Linked DNA regions of Homo sapiens. The protein of the gene in region 1 purifies or fractionates together with the protein of each later gene. This does not show direct contact. Each region holds a gene or a part of one and is shown on either strand. Other genes may lie near its edges. The genes, in order: SZT2 and MIOS.

Region 1 (3,827 bases):
GGGAGGCCAAAGCGGGCAAATAACTTAAGCCTAGGAGTTTGAGAACAGCCTGGGCAAACGGTGAAAGTCCATCTCTAAAAAAAAAATACAAAAATTAGCTCGGCATGGTGGTGAGCACCTGTAGTCCTAGCTACTTGGGAGATTGAGGTGGGAGGATCGCTTAAGTCTGGGAGGTTGAGGCTGCAATGAGCTATGATCACACCACTGCACTCCAGCCTGGGCAAAACAGCAAGATTCTGTCTCAAAAAATAAATAAAAATAATAATAAAATGAAATTACACCTTGGGAGATACTACTCTCTGTTACACTGCTTTCCAACACTGTGTTGAGACAGGTCCTGGCTAGGATTTTGGATTCATCCTTTGAGTGAGTTTAAGCTACTAAAGGAATTCCACAAGACAGTAACATTATATCTGCATTAAAAAAAATTCCCTCTGGTGGCCGGGCACCATGGCTCACGTCTGTAATCCCAGCACTTTGGGAGGCCAAGGCAGGCGGTTCACGAGGTCAGGAGATCGAGACCACCCTGGCTAACACAGCGAAACCCCGTCTCTACTAAAAATACAAAAAATTAGCTGGGTGTGGTGGCGGGTGCCTGTAGTCCCAGCTACTCAGGAGGCTGACGCAGGAGAATGGCGTGAACCCGGGAGGCGGAGCTTGCAGTGAGTCGAGATCACGCCACTGCACTCCAGCCTAGCGAGACTCCGTCTCAAAAAAAAAAAAAAAAAAAAAATTCCCTCTGGCTACTGTGTGATTTAGAAAGCACCCTCCCACCGCAGACTAACAACTAGGGGAGATGACAGTGGCTTAGACTAGAGCTACTCAAAGTAGCCATTCTGTGAACTGTGTGAGACTGGGTCTTGATGAGATAATGCCAGGATGCAAAACCACCACTATCTTTCACGGTGAAAGTCTTATTATGGAAAACAAAAAGTCAGCTGAACTAAACAGTGAACTTAGTTGTATTTCAAGGGATCTTTAGGATAGGACAGAAAAGAACTGGTGATTAATTATAAGTCAGGACATAGGAGGAAAGTAACAAAAAGGAAGGTATCAAGGATGATTAAAGTAGCATTGGAAACCAATACGCTGCAAAATGATTTTTTTCTTTTTTTTTTTTGAGACGGAGTCTCGCTCTGTCGCCTAGGCTGGAGTGTAGTGGCGCAATCTCGGCTCACTGCAACTTCCGCCTTCTCAGTTCAAGCGATTCTCCCACCTCAGCCTCCTGAGTAGCTGGGACTACAGGGGCATGCCACCATGCCTGGCTATTTTTTGTATTTTTAATAGAGATGGTGGTTCACCATATTGGCCAGGCTGGTCTCGAACTCCTGACCTTGTGATCTGCCCGCCTCCACCTCCCAAAGTGCTGGGATTACAGGCGTGAGCCACCGCACCCAACCTACTGCAAAATGATTTCTAAGTTAGCTACAAAAAGTAGATAGTTATTCCTGACTACCACACCCCATCGAAAAGTCCCATCAAATTGTACACTCTTATCGCCATGCTCCTAAAAACAGAAAAGGGGTCTATTTATTGGCAAAGAAGGAAATCACAGCAATTACTCACCCTTTCTTTCTCTGATCCTTGGTTTTAGGGTGGGATACTAAACCAGGCAACCTCTCCTTCAGGTTTGACTTAGCTAGTGTGGGTGGGATATTATGTGTTGACTATGCTGGATACTGCCAAAGTTCTTATCTAAAAAAGCATGTACAAGAGACTTACTGGAGTTTTAAAAAAGAATTTTTTTGTTAAGGGATGGTTTGGGGCTCAGAGCATTATCAGAATAGGAAGGCTATCCTAATTCAGCAGTCATTTGTTTATCACTCTGTCTCCAGAGCCCAGTGCAGTGCCTGGCACATAGGATGTTCAATAACATTTCTCTAAATAAGTGAATTCGCTATGGTTTTTTCTCCCCACCACCACCTCTTCCCCTCTCGCTATATGTTCTAAGCACGGCAAACTGGACATTTAAAACTAATCATAATTAGTACAACTTTTCTCAAGATGAGATCACCTTAACACTAGTGTCAACACTACTTTCCTTTTGTTCTTTGGTACTAAATACTTTTTGTTTTCAAATGCCAGCCTGTTTCAGCTATGCAAGGAAAAACCAAGGAAAAGCGTTTTGGCCCACGTAAGGCCAGGGTTAAAAGGGGAAGAGCACATGGTTGTGGGTCAGCACTATAAGGACAGAGTTGGGCACGTGGTCACCTCATCTTCTAGGACTAAAATCACGGCAAATCTAGGTTTAATAAATGAACCTTTCCATGACTGTCTGCACTAAGTTAGGGTCCTATGTTGGGCATTCACACAGCACTCTGTATTTTTTCTTCATGACACCTGCCAGAGTTTATAATTAAGAATTTGTAGGGGCCGGGCGTAGTGGCTCACACCTGTAATCCCAGCACTTTGGGAGGCCGGGGTGGGTGGATGACCTGAGGCCAGGAGCTCGAGACCAGCCTGGCCAATGTGGCGAAACCCCACCTCTACCAAAACATACAAAAATTAGCCGGGCATAGTGGAGCACATCTGTAGTCCCAGCTACTTAGGGGACCGAGGCAGGAGAATCGCTTGAACCCAGGAGGTGGAGGCTGCAGTGAGCCAAGATTGCACCACTGCACTCCAGCCTGGGCAACAGAGCAAGACTCCATCCATCTCTCCATCTCAAAAAAAAAAGAATTTGTATACTTTAATGTTTGTTTCCTGTATAAGTCTGAAGATCCAGCGAGGTGGAGGCCATGTCTACATATTGTTTCTTTTCTTTTTTTTTTTTTGAAATGGAGTCTCGCTCTGTCACCCAGGCTGGAGTGCAGCAGTGCCATCTTGGCTCACTGCAACCTCCGCCTCTTGGTTCAAGTGATTCTCTTGCCTCAGGCTCCTCAGTAGCTGGGACTATAAGCACGTGCCACCACACCCAGTTAATTTTTGTATTTTCAGTAGAGACAGGGTTTTGCCATGTTAGCCTGGTCTCGAACTTCTACCTCAGGTGATCCACTGGCCTCAGCCTCCCAAAGTGCTGGGATTACAGGTGTTAGCCACCACACCTGGCCTATACATTGTTTCTTGCTGTAACCCTAGAGCCTAGCACAGTGCCAAGACATACTAAGTGTTCTAATAATAACTGTTGAATACATGTATGAACAAGGAAAACTAATCTCACAAGCTGTATTTATTCTGTTTCCAGCTATTCTTAATTTGTTACCAATAATTTCTAATTTTTCACTCTTCTATCAACATGGTTTTTGTTGACGAAGAGTTCCTGTCCTTTATTCACTTCATCTTTCAATCATTTATGGACAAGGTAAGCTATTCTATTTTTGGAGTTTTTCCTTTGCTTCCACAAACATCGTTTTTACCACATTTTCACTAGTATCTTCTTCTTTATTGTTCCTGGAACCCTGGGGGAGTGCAAATGGGGGTTCTAACAGATTTGCTTTATGTTCCATTAGCTTTGTTTTAGAAAGAACAGTGTTACAGAAAGAAAGTGTTGTGATTTGACAGCTAAGACTCTGGGTGAGCTTCCTCCTGTGTAAAAATACCAGCTAGCCCAATGATGTGTGAAAGCACCTTGTAAAAAGTAACGTGTATAAATGCACAGATTAGTAATAACAAAGTGTTGCTGTTTACCTCTCTTCTTTGAGTCAGAAGTCCTGCACAGCCATTCACTTCAGTGTTGTTTCTTTGTTTTTTTTGCCCATACCTGTTTAGTTGGTAGAGTTGGGAATGTCCTCACATAGAGCCAGAATCTGTCTTTTTGATAATATCTTGACCTACTCTTAAAATCTGTTGTCTTGAAAATATCTAACCCACTTTTTGTTTTACCTTCT
Region 2 (3,827 bases), on another chromosome or scaffold:
CTGGAGTGCAGTGGTGCAATGGCAGCTCACTGCAACCTCCACCTCCTGGGTTTAAGTGATTCTTGTGCCTCAGCCTCCCAAGTAGCTGAGACTGCAGGCATGCACCACCATGCCGGCTAATTTTTGTATTTTTAGTAGAGACGGGGTTTCCTCATGTTGGCCAGAAATATCAATTCTGGTCTCGAACTCCTGATCTTGAATGATCCACCTGACTTGGCCTCCCAAAGTGCTGGGATTACAGATGTGAGCCGCCATGCCCTGCCCCAGTATCCTTGTTTTGCTATACATAAATTTGAGTTATTAGATAACAGTCATCTTGAGTACGAAGTTCATATTTCCAAGCTGTTTCATTTATGTATTTAGTTATACTTTATGTATAAATAATTATAATTAATGTTGCTATTTAAAAAATGTTAATAGTAATGTGAAAAGTACTGAATTGGGAAGTCGGAAAATACAGGCCTGACTCCTTGCTCTGCCCCATTTACCATAGCCATTCAGTTAATTTTTTTGAGTATTACTTTCTCGAGATGTAAAATGGGACAGAATAATGTTTATAACTCTTTCCAGATCAAAATTTTGTAACATATGCAACTGAATCTAAGAGTTAAATCTAGTTATATGAAATATGTTCTCTCTTTAGGGCAAAACCATATTTTATCATAGAAAAAATATGCTAAGATATAGGTATCAACTGAAGTGATCTTACGGTTAAAAAAGTAAAATTTTCATAGGATGACTTCAGTGGAAATTGGATCTTTTTTCCACCCTTAAATTATTTTTACAAATTACAAAATTAATTGTACCTTCCTACATTTGTAGTAAATATATTTCAAAAGTGTTTCATGATATTGACGAGTTTACAAAAATTTTAGTTATTATAATGCCTCTGAAATCTTTGCCACAAACCACCTATATAACAACTTTAGCCACAAGAGTGTGTCTGTTTATGTTTTAAAACTTGTCACTTTGTACTTGGAAACGTATATTGGTATTCTTCTAAGTTGTGTACTGGTGTAGCCAATTCACAAATTTCTTAGACTTACTGATTAACTTAGTAGCCAAGGAAAGATTTCCTTAGTTCTCTAAAATTAATTTCTATGATGGAAAGATTATGTGGCATCTTAAATTTGATATACTGTGCATCATTGCTTATGTTTTATGTTATGTAAGACTGACCTGGATTTTTAAAAACTGAATTTGGCTAGTGTTTAAAAGGTAAATTTTTACTTTGCAAGGACAAAACCTTATTGCTGAATTTCCTAAGAGTTACATCAAGAAAGGCATCTCAGGCAATTAATGGCTCTGCAAGATAAATATAACTTATTAATAAATTTGGAAATAAACATATTCATTTTATTTATATAAAACATTCAGTCTCTGCAAAAATTTAAAACCAGTGCGCCTAGAAGTAACTCCTTGCTTTTTCTCTTCTTTCCAGTATGAAAACAAAGTTGCAGTACGTGACAGAGTGGCATTTGCTTGTAAATTCCTTAGTGATACTCAGGTGAAAACTGATTTAATTCCACATTTGAAGTAATTAATATGTACTGTCACAATTATGTAAGAAACTAGTCTTTATAATTACATATGTATGAGATTGATAAGCTAATTCTTCTAAAAAGTATGGTAAGAATTTATTAGATAAAAATATTTTGAAAATGTCTACCATAACTAAATTTATTTGTTTAGAATACTGACAATATTTTAGTATATTTCTTCTTTGGAGGGTAAGATTAGTTAGTAGGTAAAGATGTTAAACTCACCTCTTAGTGATGCTATGAAAGGGTTCCTCATTTTTACTACATTAAACAATGCTAAATGCCTATGCTGTGTATATAGTGAGGGGGAAATGCATGTAAACAACCAGTAATACTATATGCTAAGTACTATAATAATGAAAAATGCTGGGGAAAGATGGAGGAATCTTGGCAAGAGTTTGGGGTGGGTTGAAGTCAGGGAAGACCTAAAGGAAGTTATTCTTGATGATCTTAAAGTTCCCTTCCAACTCCAGATTTTGTGATTCTGTTACATACTACTATGATAGACAGCAAAAATTTCGCAGAATAATGAGGACAATTATCTTTAAAATAATAAACCATCTATAGTTCTTTTATGGATTAATTATCAACATAATAAATGCCTTTTTAAAATATTTTAAATGATTATGGATATTGCTTTGAAATTTGTAATAGATGCAGACTTCTTAGTTAAATATTTATATTTTAGTAAAGTCTTTTGTTTTAAAATGTTTTCCATTAGGAATGAAATTGTTCAAAATGTAGTTTTGAAGTACAAAATACATAGTGAAACAGATTGCTTTAGAAAAATCACTTTAAATTTTCCAGTTAAATAGATACATCGAAAAGTTGACCAATGAAATGAAAGAGGCTGGAAATTTGGAAGGAATTTTGCTTACAGGCCTTACTAAAGATGGAGTGGACTTAATGGAGAGTTATGTTGATAGAACTGGAGATGTTCAAACAGCAAGTTACTGTATGTTACAGGTCAGTGCAGTTTGACAGCAGCTTTTAAAAAAGTAACAATATTCTATATTTTCTTTCCTCAGTTGAAAGTAAATATGCACTTTTGCTTGCTTAGGATCTTTAGAAGGCATTTAGTTTTAACCTAATCAGTTGATCTACTGAAGACTTGTGCCTTATCTTACTGTCCCTAAGCCTCTTCATTGAGTTATCCAGTTTTTCCTTTCAGTCTGAGAAGGGCCAGTCTTGACTGCATCTGAATTTATGTAAAGCTCAAATTGAATAGAGAAACTCTCTTCAGTTTCTCCAATTGTTGACATAACTGCATCTTCTACAAGAAAGATTGGCTTTTCCTGATCTCAACTATAGTCTTACTTGAAGTGCTGAAGTCTAGTTATACCACAGCTCTCAGCTTTCATTTTCTCTTTTTATTATCATTGGGGGTATTTGGGGTAACCAATTTATCCATATTTTCTCAATTTTTACTGTCCAGTGATTAAAAACAGATTCCAGGCATAGATTGCTGTCTACTTTACTTTTGCTGGAAATAATGGTAAAATTTAGAGTATTCTCCTGAGATTTCCTGTAGCCCTCCAGTTGATCTTATCCTTACATGATGTTGGTACCCTCCTCTTTCCTGCCCTCATCCTCATATCACAATATGGTAGCATACTGTGTACTGGGTGAACACAGGAAAATGCCCCCTCTCCCACTGCACCTTCTTGTGCATATATAGAGACACTAGCCCACAGACCACAAAGTAAACTTACCTAATGTATCAAGCCACTGCCCATGGAAGAAAAAGTACCCTTCTATAACATTTTTTCTTGTTGAGATAAAATTATGTCTTTTAAATTAAAGTGTATGTATATGGCTGTAGATGGCTACAGAGTGCAAATGAGTTAGTAACTTCTTACCAAGATTTATAAAATATATTTAAAATGCAGACAATACAGATCTTGCTTTTTTAAAATCCAGTCTGATAATTGCTGCCTTTAATTGGAGTGTTTCCTTCATTTACATTTATATGGTCATGGTTAAGTCTACCATCTTGCTGTTTGTTTTCCGTTTTGTTTGTCCTTTTTCCTTTTGTTCCTATGTTCCTTTCCTACCTTATTTTGGGTTAATATTTCCATGTTTCATTTTATTGCCTCTATTGGCTTTTTAGCTATATCTCTTTTCATTATCTTTTTTAAAAGATGTTGCTGTAGATCTAACAATATGCATCCCTCAACTCATCAAAGTCAACATTTTACCCCCTCATACTTCACATTTCTCACCTGACACATCATGCTTTCTTTCTACTTTACCCTTTCTTATGTCACTCTGACACTTTCTGGGTTT

Evidence for each region.
Region 2: the proteins of SZT2 (region 1) and MIOS purify together in Homo sapiens (affinity purification with western blotting; one study listed by BioGRID and IntAct). This does not show direct contact.

Annotation. Positions count from the first base shown.
Region 1 is NC_000001.11:43,396,373-43,400,199, reverse strand, and holds part of SZT2 (KICSTOR complex protein SZT2), read right to left. Parts: intron 1-3,827.
Region 2 is NC_000007.14:7,587,057-7,590,883, forward strand, and holds part of MIOS (GATOR2 complex protein MIOS), read left to right. Parts: intron 1-1,441; coding exon 1,442-1,507; intron 1,508-2,348; coding exon 2,349-2,507; intron 2,508-3,827. UniProt on the Homo sapiens protein: As a component of the GATOR2 complex, functions as an activator of the amino acid-sensing branch of the mTORC1 signaling pathway. The GATOR2 complex indirectly activates mTORC1 through the inhibition of the GATOR1 subcomplex.